Linked DNA regions of Homo sapiens: regions 2 and 3 are each linked to region 1. Evidence: fine-mapped expression QTL. A gene starts in region 1. Each other region holds a variant in brackets. All regions are shown on one strand. Distances are between the middles of the regions.

Evidence for each region. PIP is the estimated chance that this variant, and not a neighbour inherited with it, causes the effect.
Region 2: its variant is the best candidate, but not a certain one, in a credible set for the expression of STRN4 in caudate (GTEx, PIP 0.72).
Region 3: its variant is the best candidate, but not a certain one, in a credible set for the expression of STRN4 in whole blood (Lepik 2017, PIP 0.70).

Annotation. Positions count from the first base shown.
Region 1 is chr19:46,744,652-46,748,845 of GRCh38, reverse strand. It overlaps STRN4 (striatin 4), which reads left to right and starts at 2,396. Exons shown (of 18, transcript NM_013403.3): 1 at 2,396-2,697. The coding sequence starts at 2,416. FKRP (fukutin related protein) reads right to left here and starts at 2,789. Exons shown (of 4, transcript NM_024301.5): 1 at 2,756-2,789; 2 at 758-819; 3 at 181-331. RefSeq lists silencers at 1,971-2,020, 2,061-2,160, 2,201-2,350, 2,361-2,410, 2,621-2,850.
Region 2 is chr19:46,771,915-46,776,108 of GRCh38, reverse strand. SLC1A5 (solute carrier family 1 member 5) reads left to right here. Exons shown (of 8, transcript NM_005628.3): 8 at 362-1,226. The coding sequence ends at 599. Among named protein-coding and RNA genes, the nearest start is that of SLC1A5, 15 kb to the left of the region's middle. The variant T/C (reference allele first, on the strand shown) is at 1,550.
Region 3 is chr19:46,540,702-46,544,895 of GRCh38, reverse strand. It overlaps the pseudogene PPP5D1P. Among named protein-coding and RNA genes, the nearest start is that of PNMA8B, 47 kb to the right of the region's middle. The variant A/T (reference allele first, on the strand shown) is at 2,189.

The sequences.
Region 1 (4,194 bases):
CACTTGAACTCAGGAGGCGGAGGTTGCAGTGAGCCGAGATTGCTCCACTTCACTCTAGCCTGGGTGAGACCCTGTCTCAAAACAAACAAACAAACAAAAAAAAGACGGACAAAAGCCATGCAACTTACAGACAGGGCAGGAAACCAGCAGGGGGCGCAAGAGTAGAAACAGGGGGCTTGCCTTAGAAATGGTAGTCAGAGGGGACAGTTACTCTGAGAGTTTACTTGTCTCTCCAGTCCCCACAAAACAAGGTAAATGAATCCAAATTCTCTTCAGGCCTTGGGTTCACTGGGTCTGAGTTGCGATTTGGCCTGAGCCTCAGTCCCTGCACCTGTGGAATGGGAATGTGACGGTTAGAAAAAAATGAGAGGGCTGGGCGCGGTGGCTCACGCCTGTAATTCTAGCATTCTGGGAGGCCGAGGCGGGCGGATCACGAGGTCAGAAGTTCGAGACCAGCCTGCCAACAAGGTGAAACCCCATCTCTATTAAAAATACAAAAAATTAGCCGGGCGTGGTGGCAGGTGCCTGTAATCCCAGCTACTCGGGAGGCTGAGGCAGGAGAATCGCTTGAACCAGGGAGGTGGAGGTTGCAGTGAGCCATGACCGCGCCACTGCATTTCAGCCCGGGCAACAGAGCGACACTCCGTCTCAAAAAAGAAAGAAAGAAAAAGAAAAAAATGAGAGACATGGGAAAGCCTTAAGGAATGAGGAAGGGCAGTTTCCATGAGAGTGTAGGTGACACTGAGGGACTTCTTACCTCCTAGGTTGTAGGCTGGGGGAGTTCCAGGAGGGCAGTTCCAGCCCAGCTGAGCTGCGCTCCTGAGAGGAGGAGAACCAGAAAATCCCAAATCAGCCATTTCCGTACAATAGAGCACAATTTCATCTTATCCACAAAAGTGGCAAGAGAAAGGTCAGGGAATCCTTTCTCTTGAAGTCCTATAATCTCGGGCACCACCTGGGGTGTCTCAGGAGTGGGGTGGGGTGAATGGGAGGGATGTCAGTTATTATAGCAACCTATAACCATCCCTCTAGCATGAATGTGTCCAGAAAAGGTAGGGCTAGAAGCCAACAGAAGCTGTTACCATGACAACCCCTTCCATAGACACACTCTACCTCTGAGAGACATTCTTAAAACATCCCCTGGCCGGGCGTGATGGCTCACACCTGTAATCCCAGCACTTTGGGAGGCCGAGGCGGGCCTGAGGCAGATCACCTGAGGTCGGGAGTTCAAGACCAGCGTGACCAACATGGAGAAACCCCGTCTTTACTAAAAATAAAAAAAAAATTAGCCGGGCGTGGTGGCGCATGCCTGTAATCCCAGCTACTTGGGAGGGTGAGGCAGGAGAACGGCTTGAACCGGGGAGGCGGAGGTTGTGGTGAGCCGAGATTGGGCCATTGCATCCCAGCCTGGGCAACAAGAGTTACACTCTGTCTCAAAAAAAAAAAAAAAAAAAAAAATCCCCTCCTTTGTTGGGCTTGGTTCCTAGGGTCACTCGAAGGGGGCTGCTCTATTATCATAGTAACCAGGCCTTGAACTTGCCTGTTTCTCACCTTCCGGAGGAAGGTCCAGGCCCTGTAACCATAGCAACTGCCCCTCAGCAGAGCATCTCCTCTAAATAAAAACACCTGGTTAGTTTGGTGCATGGGCCTCCCACGATGGGAAGGGGAAGACGGTTACCATGGTAATGCCAACTAGGTGGCTATGGGGGAGGGGCTGGGGAAGAGGTGCTTCTCTTAGAGATCAGTGTCCTTGGGGCTGGGGTCCTTTCTACCTGAATGCTAGGTGGGGGGGAGGTTGCCATAGTAATCAATGAGGATAGGAGCAGAAGGACCACCACGGACACTTAGGTTACCTTAGCAACCTTCTCCTGGTGCAGAGTCCTAAGAGGTTTGGGGCTCCATAACCACAAAGGTGGAAGCGAGGGGAAGGCTGCTCCCCACCACCTCGCCCCCACCGCTGGGGAAGGGTTACCATGACAACCAACCTGGCCGGCAATCAGAGAGGATGGGGCCACTGCTGGTCGCCCTTTCTCTCAGAGTAAAAGTAATTGTCCAGGAGAGTGGTGTTTGGGTGTGGAAGGGGTAAGGCTCTTTCTCTGGGGCGAAGTGGGAGGAGGGGGGCAGAAAGCGGCCCCTTCCTCAGTCTCACTCCAGCGAGGGGGACCGTCGCGCGGGGCCTGGGTCTCCCTCGCCCTCCTCGGGGCGCGATCTCCCACCCGCCGGCCCCCGCGCGGGCACGCTACCCTTCGGTGTAGACCCGGGTGGGCGAGGCTCGCGCTCGCCGCCGGCCCCCCTTCCTACTGTCCCCCGCCGGGCGCGCGCGCGGTGGTTGCGGCGGGGGAGGGGGGGGGGTGTTGGCGCGGCCGCGCAGGCGCGCGAGGCACAGCGGGCGCGCAGGCCGGCCCCGGGGCCTCCATGATGGAGGAGCGAGCGGCCGCCGCGGTCGCCGCCGCCGCCTCCTCCTGCCGTCCGCTCGGCTCAGGCGCGGGCCCTGGCCCCACTGGGGCGGCCCCGGTCTCCGCCCCTGCCCCCGGGCCGGGCCCGGCAGGTAAGGGAGGCGGCGGCGGAGGCAGCCCCGGGCCCACGGCGGGCCCGGAGCCCCTGAGCCTGCCGGGGATCCTGCACTTTATCCAGCACGAGTGGGCGCGCTTCGAAGCCGAGAAAGCCCGCTGGGAGGCCGAGCGCGCCGAGTTACAGGTGAGCGCTGTCCCGGGACCCCCGACCCCCAACCCGGCCCGGCCCGGCCCGGCCTCACCCGCTGCCGCCGCCGCCGCCATCTTGGAGCAATGGCCGCCGGGACGGCCGGCGGGGGGGCGGGAGGGGACCGCGACGGTCCCGGAGGGCGAGTGAGGGGCCGTCCGAGGGGTGTCCTGAGGGCACTCCGGGGTGGGACGGGACCGGGACGGCCCGAGGTGGGAGTGGAGGGACCGGGGGTGGGAGGGATCACCGGGACCGGCCGAGAGAAAGGGGCGGAGGGACCACAACCAGCTGGGAGTGGGACTGGGACTGGGACTGAGCACGCTGGCCGCGGGGCTCCTGAGAGAGGCGACTCGAGCCCTGGAGGGGAGGCTAAGAGAACTCGGGAAAGGGTGTGGAGAGGAGCTGGAGGGGTCTGGGAGACCTGAGTGGTCTCCTGTGGGAGTAAGCAGAAGCTTGCCGGGCGCCGAGGGACTCCCGACCCCGACCCCGACCATGGCCCTAGCCAGGTGCAGGTTGGAGGTGGGAGCGTCCAAGGGGGGAACTTGGGACCCGCTGGGAAAGAGCGGGTCCAGATGGGGAACCGGGAGGATTTAGGGAGAGGAAGTCGGGAACCTGGGATCGGTGTGTTTCGGGGCGACTGGACGGTGGGCACGGAAGGAGGGCTGTGTAAGGACCCGAGGGGTGGGAGGAGGGTTTCAAGGGGTCCAGGATGAAGGTGTGTGCCTTCCCCTCTGAGGAGAAACTTTGGGGATCCCGGGCATGTGTGGCTGCACAGTGCAGGGAAGGGTTCTTTGGAGTGGAAGTGTGGACAGAGCAGGGAATGTACCCTAGGAGCCTGGATGGGAGAGCTTAAGAGTGGAAGTTCCACTTTGGGGGTGTGCAGGAGTGGGCGCGATGGCACTGAGATGGCACGTGTGTTGTAGGATGTAGGTAGAGAGCCCTGAACTGGAGTGTGGGGTGTTGGGCATGTCCAGTATGGAGGTGAGGGTCCTGGGATGGTGCCAATGAGGACGAGTTAGGGGTTACCCTGGGGTGATGCTTTAGGGGGGAGAATTTTGTAGAGCCCGAAGGCAACATGAGGAGGCATCTCGGAACGGGGGTAGACTGGGGTTGGGGGGAAGGGGATATGTTTGTGGAAGTCTTGGGAAAAGACCCCGTGGTTTTTGGGGTAGCTTGGGACAGGGATGTTGAATGGAAGAGTCTGAGGAGTTGGGCTAGGGTTTGTGACCTCGTGGAGCGTCAGGTCCATTGGCAGTGACTGGAGGACCATGGAGATGTCCGGATTTGAAGGGATCAGGAATGGCCCGCTGGAAGTCTGAAGATTCTTGGACTGGGTTATTATTAGCAGAAATTGTCATTACCTGCTTGTAGCAGCCCACCTTTCCCCTTCCGATTTGCCGTTTGCTATCTAGTAGGAAGCTGGTACCCAAATAAATAGCTGATGAGAATTGTGTCGGTAGGGATGGGGTGCGGTGGCTCACGCCTGTAATCCCA
Region 2 (4,194 bases), 27 kb before region 1:
TAGGTGAATTATAATTTTTTTTCGAGACACAGTCTGGCTCTGTCACCCAGGCTGGAGTGTAGTGATGTGATCATGGTTGTGATCACTGCAGCCTCCACCTCCCAGGCTCCAGCGATCCTCCTGCCCCAGCCTCCTGAGTAGCTGGGACTATAGGTGTGCACTACCATGCCTGGCTAATTTTTTTTTTTTTTAAATATATATAAAGATGGGATCTCACTATGTTGCCCAGGCTGACTCCAACTCTTAATTTTTACTTTTTAGATTCCAGGGGGAGAGAGGCAGGAGGCTTAGGCCTTGGCCCTTTCCTTCCCTCTCACCCTCTCCCCTCCCGCTTACTTTGCTGTCATTTCTACCCCTTTAGCGACCGGTCCTGTACCGTCCTCAATGTAGAAGGTGACGCTCTGGGGGCAGGACTCCTCCAAAATTACGTGGACCGTACGGAGTCGAGAAGCACAGAGCCTGAGTTGATACAAGTGAAGAGTGAGCTGCCCCTGGATCCGCTGCCAGTCCCCACTGAGGAAGGAAACCCCCTCCTCAAACACTATCGGGGGCCCGCAGGGGATGCCACGGTCGCCTCTGAGAAGGAATCAGTCATGTAAACCCCGGGAGGGACCTTCCCTGCCCTGCTGGGGGTGCTCTTTGGACACTGGATTATGAGGAATGGATAAATGGATGAGCTAGGGCTCTGGGGGTCTGCCTGCACACTCTGGGGAGCCAGGGGCCCCAGCACCCTCCAGGACAGGAGATCTGGGATGCCTGGCTGCTGGAGTACATGTGTTCACAAGGGTTACTCCTCAAAACCCCCAGTTCTCACTCATGTCCCCAACTCAAGGCTAGAAAACAGCAAGATGGAGAAATAATGTTCTGCTGCGTCCCCACCGTGACCTGCCTGGCCTCCCCTGTCTCAGGGAGCAGGTCACAGGTCACCATGGGGAATTCTAGCCCCCACTGGGGGGATGTTACAACACCATGCTGGTTATTTTGGCGGCTGTAGTTGTGGGGGGATGTGTGTGTGCACGTGTGTGTGTGTGTGTGTGTGTGTGTGTGTGTGTGTGTTCTGTGACCTCCTGTCCCCATGGTACGTCCCACCCTGTCCCCAGATCCCCTATTCCCTCCACAATAACAGAAACACTCCCAGGGACTCTGGGGAGAGGCTGAGGACAAATACCTGCTGTCACTCCAGAGGACATTTTTTTTAGCAATAAAATTGAGTGTCAACTATTTAATCAGGTGTTCTTGAGAATTTGACTTAAAGCACTGGCCACTGCAATGACAGTATCTGCTCATCAAGAAACACCACTGGGCTGGGCATGGGGGCTCACACCTGTAATCCCAGCACTTTGAGATCACTCCAGGCCAGGAGTTCAAGACAAGCCTGGGCAACATAGTGAGACATCGTCTCTACAAAAAAATACAAAAATTAAGGCCGAGCACGGTGGCTCACACCTGTAATCCCAGCACTTTGGGAGGCCGAGGCGGGCGAATCACGAGGTCAGGAGTTCAAGATCAGCCTGGCCAACATGGTGAAACCCTGTCTCTACTAAAAATA[T/C]AAAAATTAGCCAGACATGGTGGTGGGCGCCTGTAGTCCCAGCTACTCAGGAGGCTGAGGTAGGAGAATTGCTTGAACCCGGGAGGCAGAGGTTGCAGTGAGCCGAGATCGCACCACTGCACTCTAGCCCGGGTGAAAGAGCAAAACTCTGTCTCAAAAACAACACAAAAAATTAGGCAGGTGCAGTGGTGCACACCTGCAGTCCCAGCTACTCAGAAGTCTGCGGTGGGGAGGATTCCTTGAGCCCAGGAGTTTAAGGATGCAGTGACCCATGATCATGCCACTGCACTCCAGCCTGGGCAACAGAGTGAGACCCTGTCGCTTTTTTTTTTTTTTTTTTTTGAAACGGAGTCTGGCTCTGTTGTCTGGGCTGGAGTGCAGTGCAGTGGCACGATCTTGGCTCACTGCAACCTCCGCCTCCCAGGTTCAAGCGATTCTCCTGCCTCAGCCTCCGAAGTAGCTGGGACTACAGGTATCTGCCACCATGCCCAGCTAATTTTTGTATTTTTAGTAGAGACCGGTGCCTCAAGTGATCCACCCACCTTGGCCTCCCAAAGTGCTGGTATTACAGGCGTGAGCCACCACGCCCAGCCAGACCCTGTCTCTTAAACACCACGGGAAACCACAATGAGACACCACTATACACAGTAGAATGGCTGAATACAAGACCAAGGGAGGATGGGATACAACAGGACTCCTCATCTCTTGGTTGGTGCTCCCTTAGTAGATGGCTGAGTTGTTTTGGAAAATAACTGGGCAGTTTCTTAATAAAGTTAAAAAATACAGGCTGGGTGCAGTGGCTCACGCCTGTAATCCCAACACTTTGGGAGGCCGAGGTGGATGGATCACCTGAGGTCAGGAGTTCGAGACCAGCCTGGCCAACATGGTGAAACCCCGTCTCCACTAAAAATACAAAAATTAGCCGGGCGTGGTGGCACATGCCTGTAGTCCCAGCTACTTGGGAGGCTGAGGCAGGAGAATCGCTTGAACCCAGGAGGCAGAATGTTGCAGTGAGCCAAGATCTCACCATTGCACTCCAGTCTGGGTGACAAAAGCAAAACTCTGTCTCAAAAAAAAAAAAAAATATATATATATATAATATATATTTATTTACTATGCAGCTTAGGAGTTGCACTCCTGGGTATTTACCCAAGAGAAGTGAAAACTTTTGCTTTTACAAAAATGTGTCCACAAACGTTTAGCTGCTGTACTCATCATTGCCAAAATTTGGGAACAAATCAATTGGATACACTGGTACATTCATACAATGGAAGATTACTCAGCAATAAATAAGAGCGATATCGACCTACACTGCAACAGAAATGCATTTCAGATAATTTGTTGAGATAAAGAAGCCAGAGACGGTAAATACTGTATAGTTCCATTTAGAGGAGGGCTAGAACATGCTCAACTGGCCTATGGTGGGAAATCAGAACAGTGGTGACCTTTGAGAATGAATATGGGGCCAGGCACGGTGGCTTCATGCCTGTAATCCTAGCACTTTGGGAGGCCGAGGTGGGCGGATCATGAGGTCAGGAGATCGAGACCATCCTGGCTAATATGGTGAAACCCCATCTCTACTAAAAATACAAAAAATTAGCAGGGCATGGTGGCGGGCGCCTGTAATCCTAGCTACTCTGGAGGCTGAGGCAGGAGAATGTGGTGAACCCAGGGGGCGGAGCTTGCAGTGAGCCGAGATTGTGCCACTGCACTCCAGCCTGGGTGACAGAGCAAGACTCCATCTCAAAAGAAAAAAAAAATAGCATATTGATCAGAAGGGAGCACAAAAGAACCTTCTATGATAAAGCAAATATCTTACCTTGATTTGGGTGATGATTCCACAGATGGATGCATTTGGGAAAGTTAACGAACCTGTACACAAATCACATGCATTTTGCCCTGTGTGCCTTCCAGTTAAATTTTTTCTACAATCTGGGTGTGGTGGTTGGTACGTATCTGGAGTTTCCACTACTCAAGAGGCTGAGGCGGCGAGAGAATCACTTGAGCTCAAGGGTTCAAGGCTGCAGTGAGCTATGATTATGTGACTGCACTCCAGCCTGAGCAACAGATTGAGACCCTATCTCTTAAAAAAATCTGCACAAGGAGAATCGCTTGAACCCAAGAAGTGGAGGTTGCAGTGAGCCAAGATTGCGCCACTGCACTCGAACCTGGGCAACAGAGCAAGACTCTCTCAAGAGCAACAACAACAAAAATCTGCACAACGCATGGTAACAATTTATTTTCCTTTGTGACCACCTACTTAGGAATGCAGCATCCCTTCATATCCCAACTCTCACTATCCAAATTGTCCCAAGAATTATTTTATTTCCTTGAAACCCCAAAATAGCTATTTGGATAAAAACCCACTCTGCAACTGTTTTACATCCTGTGTAAGTTCAGAATATGGACTATGCTGGCCGGGCGCGGTGGCTCACACCTATAATCCGAGCACTTTGGGAGACTGAGGCGGGTAGGTCACCTGAGGTCAGGGGTTCGAGACCAGCCTGACCCATATGGGGAAACCTCATCTCTACTAAAAATACAAAAATTAGCTGGGTGTGGTGGTGGGCACCTGTAATCCTAGCTACTTGGGAGGCTGAGGCAGGAGAATCGCTTGAACCCGGGAGGCAGAGGTTGCAGTGACT
Region 3 (4,194 bases), 200 kb after region 1:
TCAGAGAAGGGAACAGGGATATTACTGAGGCCAGAAGGCCCCTCTCCCCTCAGTGAGGCCCACGCTCGTGCCCAAAGCCTGTCTGTCTTCCTAAATAATGCAGTGTGGAAGAGTAGAGGCTTTGCAGCCAAGCAGACAGGATTTCATAACCCTGGTTCCAGTACTTCCCAGTGTGTGATCTTGGACCATCAACTGGGCCTCTGAACCTCAATCTCCTCCTCTATAAAAGTGGCACAATGGCCGCAGGCGGTGGCTCACGCCTGTAATCCCAGCATTTTGGGAGGCCGAGGTGGGCGGATCACTTGAGGTCAGGAGTTTGAGACCAGCCTGGCCAACGTGGCGAAACACTGTCTCTACTAAAAATACAAAAATTAGCCGGGCGTGGTGGTGGGCACCTGTAATCTCAGCTATTCAGGAGGCTGAGGCAGGAGAATCACTTGAACCCAGGAGGCGGAGGTTGCAGTGAGCCGAGATAGTGCCATTGCACTCCAGCCTGGGCAACAAGAGCAGAACTCTATCTCAAATAAAACCCAGAAAACCAAAAAAAAAAAAAAAAAAAAAAACCCAAAACAAAACAAAAAGAAAAAACAAAAACAACAACAACAAAAAATGGCACAGTAATAGCTTAATTCCCAAGCTTGTTCAGGATTTTGTGGGTCAGGAATGTGAAAAGGGTTTGACTGGATGTTCATTTCTGTTCCACGTGGCATCATGTGATGAGGGCTGGAGGACCCACCTCCAAGATGGCTTCTTCACTCCCATGTCTGGAAGCTTCAATTCTCCTGGGCCTTCTCACAGCTCCATGCTCTTAGGGGAGCTGCAATTCTTTTTTTATTATTTATTTATTTATTTATTTGAGACGGAGTTTCGCTCTGTCGCCTAGGCTGGAGTGCAGTGGCCGCGATCTGGGCTCACTGAAAGCTCCACCTCCTGGGTTCACACCATTCTCTTGCCTCAGTCTCCCGAGTAGCTGGGACTGCAGGCGCCTGCCACCACGCCCGGCTAATTTTTGTATTTTTAGTAGAGACGGGGTTTCACCGTGTTAGCCAGGATGGTCACGATCTCCTGACCTCGTGATCCGCCGCCTTGGCCTCCCAAAGTGCTGGGATTACAGGCGTGAGCCACCGCGCCCGGCTGGGGAGTTGCAATTCTTACACAGTAGCCTGGGAGCCAAAGAGATCACGACGGAATCTGCTGGTTCCCTTAAAATGTAGATCCAGGCCTGGCGGTGTCACTTGTTTGTTTGTTTGTTTGTTTGTTTAGACAGGGTCTCGTTCTGTCACCCAGGCTGGAGTGCAGCGGCGCCATCATAGCTCACCGCAGCCTCTACCTCCTAGGCTCAAGGGATCCTCTTGCCTCAGCCTCCCGAGTAGCTGGGACTACAGGTGCGGGCCACCACGCCAGCCTATTTTTAAAAGTTATATTTTTGGCCGGGAGTGGTGGCTCACGCCTGTAATCCCAACAGTTTGGGAGGCGGAGGTGGGTGGAAGTCGGGAGTTCAAGACCAGCCTGACCAACATGGATATACCCTGTCTCTACTAAAAATACAAAATTAGCCACGTGCGGTGGCGGACCCCTGTCATTCCAGCTACTCGGGAGGCTGAGGCAGGAGAATCGCTTGAACCCAGGAGGCGGAGTCTGTGGTGAGCCGAGATCACGCCATTGCACTCCAGCCTGGGCGACAAGAGCGAAACTCCGTCTCACAACAAAACAAAAAAGTTATTTTTAGTAGAGTTGGGGTCTTTCTGTGTTGCCCAGGTTGGTCTTGCAGTCTTGGGATCAAGCGATCCGCCCACCTCTGCTTCTCGGTGTTGGAATTACAGGCGTGAGCCGCCATGCCCAGCACAGTGTCACATCTGTCATATTCTATGGGTCAAAGCAGTCAAGGGTTCTTTCTCAATCAGACTAAGACCAACAGGAACAAGCTTATTGTATTAATTTGCTAGGGCAGCCTTAACAGACAAGAAGGGAGGTGAGTCGCCTTTTAGTTTAAGTAGATACGGTCATGCTATTCTCTAATTGGCCACCAGATGGCGCGCTGGACTTACTATTAGTACAGTTTGTAATTGCCCTTCCGAGAGTGGCCACCGCCACTCAAGCGACTGGACACTGGACTAAGTGCTTCTGTTAATTTGGATAAGACAAGACTCTCACTTTCTTTGATAAAATATAAATCTAGAAGAGCCCT[A/T]GGCTTTTATTGCATCATGATCATGGAAGGAGAGAAATGATCCTTTTCTGATTTGCCAGAGAAAACCAACCAGTATTTATTCTTTAGGAAATACAGAGATGCTATTTAACCTCCTGGTCACCATAGCAACAAATAATCAAGGAAGACAACCAATCAGAATGCAGGTTTCTTTGGGAGGTTCTTTTTTTTTTTTTTCAGATATTGCAACAATTTCTAAAAAAATCTTAGACTCTTTTGTTCAAATTATCCTTTCAAGGAAAGACACAAATGAACAGAGTTAACAAATGAGGCTGGTAACAGGAAAATTAACTGGAGCTCCTGGCTGCACGGGAGAACAGAATGAATGTTTAGGGTATGTTCTCAATGTGCCACTCTATTAAAATTGATTTTTTTTTTTTTTTTTTTTTTTTTTGTAGACAGAGTCTTGCTCTGTCACCCAGGCTGGAGTGCAGTGGCGTGATCTCGGTTCAATGCAAACTTCGCCTCCCAGGTTCAAGCGATTTTCCTGCCTCAGCCTCCCGAGTAGCAGGGATGATAGGTGCCTGCCACCACGCCCGGCTAATTTTTTTGTATTTTTAGTAGGGATGGAGTTTCACCATGTTGGCCAGGCTGGTCTCAAACTCCTGACTTCAAGTGATCCGCCCTCCTCGGCCTCCTAAAGTGAAAAAACTAATTATTTAGAGCAATTTCATGATGCAGAATAGAACCCCTTCCTATACAGCTGCAAGAGAGAACGGGCTTTTTTTTTTTTATGTTTGAAAGCACTGACTTTGCTAAGCGTGGTGGCTCATGCCTGTAATCCCAACACTGGGAATCTGAGATGGGAGGACCACTTAAGCCCAGGAGGCCAAGGCTGCAGTGAGCTATGTTTGCACCACTGCACTCCAGCCTGGGCAATGGAGTGAGACCCTGTCTCAAAAAAATGCAATAATTAAATATAATAAACACTTGAAACAAACTTTATAGGAACCACAGTCTCAAGATGAAGAGTTACATTCCAGAAAGAATCCACACAAGACCACTGGGCTTAACATTCTGTCTTATAGGCAAGCTTTTTGCTTACAATTCACCCAGGAAATAAACATGATATATATAGATCCAATGTCCATTCTTTGTTTTTATTTGTTTTTTTTTGTTTGTTTGTTTTTTGGAGACTGAGTCTCACTCTTGTCACCCAGGCTGGAGTGCAATGGTGAGATCTCAGCTCCCTGCAACCTCTGCCTCCCGGAGTCAAGCGATTCTCCTGCCTCAGCCTCCCGAGTAGCTGGGATTACAGGCTCCTGCCACCACGTCCGGCTAAATTTCATATTTTTAGTGGAGACGGGGTTTCACCATGTTGGCCAGGCTGGTCTCAAACTCCTGACCTCAGATGATCCGCCCGCCTCAGCCTCCCAAAGTGCTGGGATTACAGGCGTGAGCCACCGCGCCCGGCCTCATTTTTTCATTCATTCAGTTTACATTTACTGAGCATCTCCTCAGTGCCAGTATAATTCAGGAACATAGAAGTGAACAATTCGAACATAGGTTTCTGCTCATATGGACCTTACCATCTTGTAACCTAATTAGAACCTTCCCTTGCCTGCCTGGGAAACACCTGTGCCCACAGTCCCTCCAGTCCCGAGTTTCCCATTGTGACAAATTTAATTGTGTTCCCTCCAAATTCCTGTGTTGAAGTCCTAACCTCCAGTACTTCAGAATATAACTATACTTGGAGAAAGGGCGTTTAGAGAGGCAATTAAGTTAAAATGAGGTCTTTAGAGTGGGCACCAACCCAACATGGCAGATGTCCTCATAAGAAGAGGAAATTTAGGCCGGGCGCAGTGGCTCACGCCTGTAATCCCAGCACTTTGGGAGGCTGAGGCAGGTGGATCACCTGAGCCCAGGAGTTCGAGACCAGGCTGGCCACCATGGCAAAACCCCGTCTCTACTAAAAATACAAAAATTAGCCAGGCGTGGTGGTGGGCGACTGTAGTCCCAGCTACTTGGGAGGATGAGGCAGGAGAATC